3 separate regions of the Homo sapiens genome follow, and all the other regions are linked to region 3. Evidence: fine-mapped expression QTL. A gene starts in region 3. Each other region holds a variant in brackets. All regions are shown on one strand. Distances are between the middles of the regions.

What was found. PIP is the estimated chance that this variant, and not a neighbour inherited with it, causes the effect.
Region 1: its variant is fine-mapped to the expression of RHOH in whole blood (INTERVAL, PIP above 0.99).
Region 2: its variant is fine-mapped to the expression of RHOH in whole blood (TOPMed, PIP above 0.99).

The regions. Positions count from the first base shown.
Region 1 is chr4:40,255,871-40,258,632 of GRCh38, reverse strand. No RefSeq gene overlaps it. Among named protein-coding and RNA genes, the nearest start is that of LINC02265, 50 kb to the left of the region's middle. RefSeq lists an enhancer at 1-601. The variant T/C (reference allele first, on the strand shown) is at 1,027.
Region 2 is chr4:40,263,952-40,266,713 of GRCh38, reverse strand. No RefSeq gene overlaps it. Among named protein-coding and RNA genes, the nearest start is that of LINC02265, 42 kb to the left of the region's middle. The variant T/G (reference allele first, on the strand shown) is at 1,348.
Region 3 is chr4:40,195,727-40,198,488 of GRCh38, reverse strand. It overlaps RHOH (ras homolog family member H), which reads right to left and starts at 1,458. Exons shown (of 3, transcript NM_004310.5): 1 at 1,189-1,458. RefSeq lists an enhancer at 386-485.

The sequences.
Region 1 (2,762 bases), 60 kb before region 3:
AAACACACAGCAGTTTCTTCTGACTGGTGTCAAGAGTATCAAGAGGGAGGCGTGTTGGTTTCCTAGCTGTTCTACTCTGGGTCATCCGCAAGGCTTGAGCCTCCTCCGGGGACAAAGGGAATCTGATACAGCACCTTCACCATGGAGGCCAACCTTGCAGGAAAGGCAGAGAAGGACGGCAGAAAAAGATGGAGGCCGGGGTGGGGATGCGAAGGAGCAGCAAAGACAGAGAGAGGAGAGCCGGCCGATGGTCGCCACACTCTGGAAGGAACGTGCAGGTGACTTGAAAGGAAGTTAAAGAAATCTCTGTGGCCAGGCGCGGTGGCTCATGCCTGTAATCCCAGCACTTTGGGAGGCCGAAGCAGGCAGAACACCTGAGGTTACGAGTTGGAGACCAGCCTGGCCAACATGGTAAAACCCTGTCTCTACCAAAAATACAAAAATTAGCTGGGCATGGTGGCAGACACCTGTAATCCCAGCTACTCAGGAGGCTAAGGTGGGAGGATTGCTTGAACCCGGGAGGCGGAGGTTGCAGTGAGCCAAGATCACACCACTGCATTCCAGCCTGGGCAACAGAGTAAGACTCAGAAAAAAAAAACAAAACTCTCTGGACTTTACATCTGTCATACTAAGATTTTTCTTTCCAGGATTGGGATGTTCCCTATAAGCCCTCCCAGTTTATGTAACCAAGGAGTTAGAATGTGCAACCCAATAGGTGGGCCCATTATTGGAAGGGTGGTAGTCAGGAGGCCAGGCTGGGGGCCAGGTTGCCGGGACTGAATCCTGACTCTACCACATGCCAGTGTCTTACCTTGAGTAAGTTTCCTCATCTGTAAAGGGTGGATGAAAATTCTACTTTTATCTTGGGTGCTTACAATAAGTAAATAAATTAATATATGTAAAGTACATAGTGCTGGATATATCTGAGGTTATTACTATGAGTCTAAGCAAGGCTATTTATATATGTGTATGTATATATCTATTTGTGTGTGTGTATATATATATATGCATGTGTGCATGCACACA[T/C]ACACACACACACACACCCCTTAGAAGCCCATGGATACAATTAACAAACATGGTTACAGGTTCCTTGGAAAAATCTAGGCTAACACACTGCCATTACACAGTGTAGGAGTATGTATATTCGTTAACATACTGATACTGAAAGCTGTTCACAATATAATAAATGAAAAAAGTAGATTGCAAATCAGATTGCACCATACGAACCTATTTTTGTAAAAATACACACATATGTGGATAAGAAAAAGTCTGGAATGGTAGAGACAAAAAAAGATGTAACAGTAGCTATTGAAGTGTTTTTTATTATCATTTTGTTTCATTGCTTCTAATCTTTTCACCAATGAATGTGCAATATCTGTGGGTTTTCTTAGGATAGACATAGAAAGACATCAATATAAAGAATCTCTTTCCGTTATGATTTCTTTCACTTGTGCCAACCAGGCTAGATTGCAGATTTTCCTGAGGAGCATTTGGGGAAAGGGGTGGGAGAGTATCTCTGGGGTGCCCCTGAACACACAAAGCCCCAGCCTGAGTTGTTCAGGACACACAGCTCTAGCAGTTGAGCTTATTGCTAATAAGCCAGGCAGTGCCTCTGGCTGGCTGGCGTGTCCTGTGTCTTCCTGTTCTCTACTCACTGGTTTCATGTGCTAGCCTTTGTCTCTGACATTTTCTTTCTTTTTTTTTTTCTTGAGATGGAGTCTCTCTCTGTCACCCAGGATGGAGTGCAGTGGTATGATCTTGGCTCGCTGCAACCTCTCCCTCCTGGGTTCAAGTGATTCTCCTCCCTCAGCCTCCCAAGTAGCTGGGACTACAGGTGCCTGCCACCACGCCCAGCTAACTTTTGTATTTTTAGTAGAGACGGGGTTTCACTATGTTGGCCAGGCTGGTCTGGAAATCCTGACCTCAGGTGATCTGCTCGCTTCAGCCTCCCAAAACGCTGGGATTACAGGCATGAGCCACCACACCCAGCAGCCTTTAAACTTCCATCACAGAAACCTGAAACGAATAGGCAGAGTCCAAAGCTCCATGTTAGAGGCTGGAAGTTCTGAGGCCTGCAGGAACAAGTGAGAGCCCTTGGGAGCCAAAGCCTGGCCCTCAAGTCCCGACTTGCCCAAAGCCATCTGTGTGTCTTGGGCAAAGAGGAGAGTCAGTTTCTTCATCTGTAAGATGATAGGATTGGGCTAAATCCTCCCTGAGGTCCCCTTCAACTCCAAAAAATGGGAGTCCAGTAAATAACAGAGAAGCCGGGGAAAATGTTCTGCCATGTTGATTTAGGTTTGAGCTCAATGAAAGGATCTACACTAACAAGAGATTAAAAAAAAATTGTATGGGTTTGCATGCAGTATCCAGAGAAGTAAGGTAAATACAGTTTGAGGCCTGGATTTATGGATTATTTCCTTCTTTCTGACTTTTCCATTTGTTAAACAGAGATAGCATCAATATCTGTTTACTCAATGAATGCCTAGCAGACAACCACACAGTAAGTGGGTTCAGTTAAAAAAATATGCTCTGACAATAAGGGTGAAAATAGTGACAGCCAAGGCTTGGATGGAAGACCTCACTTCTGGTCAGTGAGTGCATGTGTGTGGCCTGGATGAGCCATGTCACCCTCCTGGACCTCATCTCTTACACTAACACCTCACAGGGTCATCCAGAGCATCAGATGAAAGCATCATCGAATGGAAAAAAGGGAGTTTGGAGCAAGAGATCTAAGTACAAATCCTGATTCTGCCAAGCATTAG
Region 2 (2,762 bases), 68 kb before region 3:
ACAGACAGAACAGAACTCAAAGTCATCCCTTAGAGGCTCACATGGGACAAATCCGTATCCAATTGCTTCCTCTGCCCTATTATTTATGTAAAATTGCAGATTCACTGAGCCAGACTAAATTTTGTATTCAGTGGAAGGTTGATCAAGGACTCCGAAGAGTCCACTGCAGCCTTTTGTCTTTTGACTACTTATGACGTGGAAGTCTCCGCCTCACGTTGTCCCACCTTCCCAGACTAAACCAATGTACATCTTACATGTATTGATGTCTCGTGTCTCCCTAAAATGCATAAAAGCAAGATGTGTCTGACTACCTTGGGTACATGTTGTCAGGACCTTCCAAGGCTGTGTCACAAGCAGATTCTTAACTTTGAAAAAATAAACTTTCTAAATTGATTGAGACCTGTCTCAGATACCTTTTGGTTTATAGAAACAAGGAGAGAGTCCAAGTTTGGTGGAAGAGGGAAGGGAGCAATTAACTAGATTTTGTAGAGTTTGGTGGATGCCTCGATGGAGAAAGTAAAGAGCTGTACTCAATGAGTAAGAGTGATGGCCTCATAGTCAGGCTTTCTGGAAATGGACTGTACCTTTACACTCATCGAATACTGTAGCCATAACCGAGGGCAGTTTTACCACTTCTTATTTCAGTTCCTTGTGAGCCTTCATCTGCCACAGCATTTGGAATGAGTCTTCCTCCAGTCAGGGCTGCTGATCACAGTTGCACAGGCCGTTCACTGAACAAGGCAGAGGGGACAGTGGAGACTGAAATCTAGCTGTGCTGGGCTTGCCAAAACTCTGTGGGCTGGCATAGGGCGGTGTGCAGGCAGAGCAGGCACCATTTTCTGACTCTCACAAAGGATCCTGCAGGCTGGCAGCGCTGTACCTACCACCTGCCTAAGGCTCTGCTCTTTCTCTTCTGCCTCCGCCTCTTCCCTTCACCCTCGCCATGGCAGAGAATTAGACTTGTCAAGTTTCCACAATATGATGCAGGCTAGAAACACTGGACAGGCTGCCATCTCCCTCCTCCCTCTCCCTTCCCTCTGCTCCTCCCTCTCTCCCTCATCCCTCTCCCATAAGTTCTTCCACATGGATTCACTTTTTCAGAGAAAGTAGATTGAGGTTGAAGCAGAAAAATGACTCAGTATGTGACAAGTGTGTTTCTCCTACCAATAGCATGAAGAAAACAGACGCAGACGGTTTTCAGCAGCCTCTTTTCTCTCGGCCCAAGCCTCAAGCTAACAGAAATGTTGTGAAAAAGAACAGCCGATAAATGGTCCCTGAGTGACAGCCACAGAGTTAAAACCACAGGAGGGCTCTGCCTGCTCCCACAGCTGCAGGGTGATGAGGCTT[T/G]GCTGGGTTCCAGATCACAGGCCTGCAGTGGCCCAGGCTCCAGCGTTAGTCCTGTCTCCCCAAGGAGCCCAGGCCCAGGCTGGCTTCTTCCCTGCCCACTACTCAGGAGGAGCTTCGACCCTGTGGGAACTGGCAGTGTTGCCGCAAAGGCAAGCCCTCTGACTTTCTCGCTTCAGGCAGCCCCTGCTCGCCCTCAGGCACTAGGCACCTGCTTGACCCCTTTCCCAGGCCCATGGGGCATCTGCTCCTCCCATCTCAGGCCTGAGGGAGAAGCAACAGCCCAGAGCTTGACCCGGAGCAGATAATGCAACCGGCTTTGCAAAAATCTTAACTAAGGCAATTATGACAGTGAAAGAGGTCAGACCTAACTGACCCCATCTTCCTTCAAACCTCTCAACTGTCTTTATTCATTTGTGGGTATAGGCTGAACTAGCCTTGGGAAGGAATTTAGTTTATAGTTTACACTCTGAAACAAAATTGATAATAGCCTTTTCCCGAAAAACCCCTTTTTGCCTGGGGACCAGTTTGCCTTTGTAGGATTAACAAATTATCTACAAGATTAGAAATTACAGTTTAGCAGCCATGCAGCCTTTGGCTGCAAGAGTCTGAACCTCTCCAAATTGCTCCTGGGAATGACATCATTGTTGCGAAACCTAACATCAGTGCTTGAGATATTTTGCAGACTCTGCATTCCAATGCAGCAGATGACACCACCTAGACTGATAATCCGGCTCAATCAGTTCTGCAATCCCACCCAGGAGCAGAAGTCAGCAAGAACACCTCAATTCGACCCCCTATGATTTCATCTTCAACCCGACCAGTGAGCACTCTCCACTCTCCGAGCCCATACCACCAAATTATCCTTAAGAACTCTGATCCCCAAATGCTCAGGGAGATTGATTTGAGTAACAATAAGACTCCAGTCTCCCGCACAGCCGGCTCTACATGAATTACTCTCTCTCTCTTTTTTTTTTTTTATTTTTGAGACGGAGTCTCACTCTGTCACCCAGGCTGGAGTGCAGCGATTCAGTCTCGGATCACTGCAACCTCTGCCTCTTGGGTTCAAGCAATTATCTGCCTCAGCCTCCCAAGTAGCTGGGATTACAGGTGCCCGCCACCACACCCAGCTACCTTTTTTGTATTTTCAGTAGAGACGGGGTTTCACCACCTTGGCCAGGCTGGTCTTGAATTCCTGACCTCGTGATCCACCTTCCTCGGCCTCCCAAAGTGCTGGGATTATAGGCATGAGCCACCACACCCGGCCTGAATTACTCTTTCTCTATTGCAATTCCCCTGTCCTGAGAAATCAACTCTGTCTAGGCACCCAGCAAGGTGAACCCATTGGGTGGTTACGGTAATACCCTGGAACTCCAGGACTCTACTTGAGGAGATGTAAGGACAGCAAAACTCCATCC
Region 3 (2,762 bases):
CAGCCGCAGGGCAGAAGGAGACCAAGGACTATTGAATGGGGTCACTTCTCCCCAGTGCCTGCAAGGTCCTCGCTTTTGTGTCCACACCCTAACTGTCTAATCTGATTTCCTGCAATGTGTAAAACAAACTGTCTTCTCTTCTCCAGTGTCTCTTCAACTGGCCTTATCATCTCCAGGTCAGTCTCGCCTTTGTGCCTTTGCCCACAAGGTCCTCCCAGTCTGAAATCACCTGCCCCTTCTCCTTCTACCGACACTTCGCATTCTTCCAAAGCCCAGATCTTCCTGACAACTCCAGTTTGCCCCCAGGCCCCCTCCATGGAATTCACAGAACTCTTCAAGCCTGTGCTGCCCCACTCATCACTGAATTCTCATCTTGCATTGCTTCCTAAATTTTACTTCTTATCACAACTACCAGATTATAGGGTCCTTCAAAGTAGAGATTTTTAAAATATTTCTCTTATATCCTCCACGGCACCAGCTTAGAACCAATAAGGGGACACCAACTACTTGTTGCCTGCTTGAATACGTCAATGGCAACTTTCATTTAGTAAAGCACCTAAAACCGGTGATTTCCCAAACTTTGTTTAGTTACAACTCAGGCTACTGACTGGTACCTCGTAGCATATCTCCAAATCAAACCACCTCAGAAGAAAGATTAAATTTAATTAAAAAATACATGTTATACATCATAGAGCACTTTTGGGAAATGGTCATTAACATTGGCAATAGGTGAAAAACACAAGCTAGAAATTCCAGATTGAAATCTACATCATTTAGACTTCGGTTCTGTTTCTTTTCTGAACTAGACAACTTTAAAATTCATATTTGCACAACTTAGAGCATCTTTAGATTTACTTCATCAAACCTTGGGTAGTATTTAAACTACCCATACAGTTGAGCTCAGCCACAGTCACAAGCATATGCATTCTCTAGAATATCTGGAAAACCAAAAAGCCAACTATTGTAACTTTTCATGTTTCAAAAATCTTGTTAGGACTGTGGTGAGGGGCAGTGAATATCAAAGCAACACTCACCCCCCCGACCCCCGTCCCCCTGTAAATTGATTCTACACCTTACAGCAGGTAGCTCAGAGTCATTACGATGTTTGGCCTAGAGTAAAAGCTAAATAAAATTAGAAAAATTTCTTTTGACACCAAAGAAATACTTTTAAGGAAGCAAAATCCTTACCTGTTGCAGAATGCCGAAGAAATGTCTTGACAGTAAAATGACTGACTCCGGAAATCAAATTTGTTCAACAAAAGCAGGTGAAAACAAAAGCGGCCCAAGCCTTTTCACTGTGGTTGATTTCCTCATAGGATCAACCTCTCCCTCGTTCCCGAGAATATTAACTGATTCACACTGGAAGAACTGAAAATACAACAGTTGGGCTGGCAGGGAGTCCACCCCAAGATGGTTGGGTTAGTGTGTGTGGGGCAGCAGGAGCAATCCGAATGTGACAAAAGAGATTAGCAAGTTCCTGTGCCTAAGTCAATTTCCTGTAGCCGGCTTCTCCGCAGAGGGGGTTTCATTTGTGTGGGTTTAGGGGGGTGTGTGTGCACGTGCGTTTCTCTCCATTAGAATATGAAACTTCCCCAGATCAGAGGCAGAATAAGGCCTTTGCCGCACCGCTGGGTTTGCGTTTAATTTATCCCCCACCCTACTCCGAGACTATGTTTCTCTCCCCCTTAGCCCCATTTTCCTCCAGCAAAGCCCTACGTAAAACTGAAGAAAGGAAGACTGAAGAGTCCAAATGATTCCTCATGGAAGTAAAATTACCAAAAAAAAAAAAAAAAAAAGTCCATGCCACTGACCAATCTTGGTTAATTTGAGCTTAGGAAACAACACCTTAGAACTTTCCCCCCATCAGCTTGGGGAAAACAAGAGGTGGATTGTCTGCTTCGCTTTGCTGCATTAAAAACTATCAAATATTTTGCAAAGAACAGAGGCAGGCTTAGTGAGAGTTCGAGCAGCCCCCTGCCGTGCGTTCACCCCTGTATGGACGAGCACCTGGGCTGGGAGTTACCTGGCGATGAGTTGTTTTTTCAGACTCCTCAGAGTTTCATTATTTGCCTAAAAACACAAGTTTACTTGTTTTGTCCTAATGGGCAATCCAGGTGTAGAGACCATCTGCAACTACTTAGGTTATGGCTAAACGCCTAACCCAACAAATTGAACTTTTGTGATGTGGTCACAACCGCCTGTGCCCCAAATCCCTGAATAACTAACTGTTGATGCTACTGCTCACGGTGATAGCTTGGTCAAAATACCTGCCGACCGTAAGGATAAAGTCAACTCCATGCCTTTTATTTTATTTTATCAGTGCATCGGCCCCACACTCAAAGATTTGAGTTTAATTGAGCTGGGTTGGGACCGGACATCAATATTATTTTAAACCCCTCTGATTATTCTAAAGTACTGCTGCCACTCTAATGGATGAGAAGGAGGAAAGAACATTCCACGTAGAGGCAAATAGTATGTGCAAAGGCCCTGAGGTGGGAAAGAGGTTGGCATGTTCAAAGAAGTGAAAGCAGATGACTGTGCTTGCAGCATAGTTGTAGAGGGAATCAATGGTACAAGGTGAGCATTCTTATCAATAGACACCCAATTACCAAGTTCACAAGACTTCCACATGAACCCATGTGTCAATTTGTTAATGCACAGTAAGAACTCAATCTGCCAGCTGAGATCCTCGAGCCTTCTGAAGAGCACATTATCTCCTAGAAAATCCTCTGTGGGAGGCCAGGTGCAGTGGCGGTGGCTCA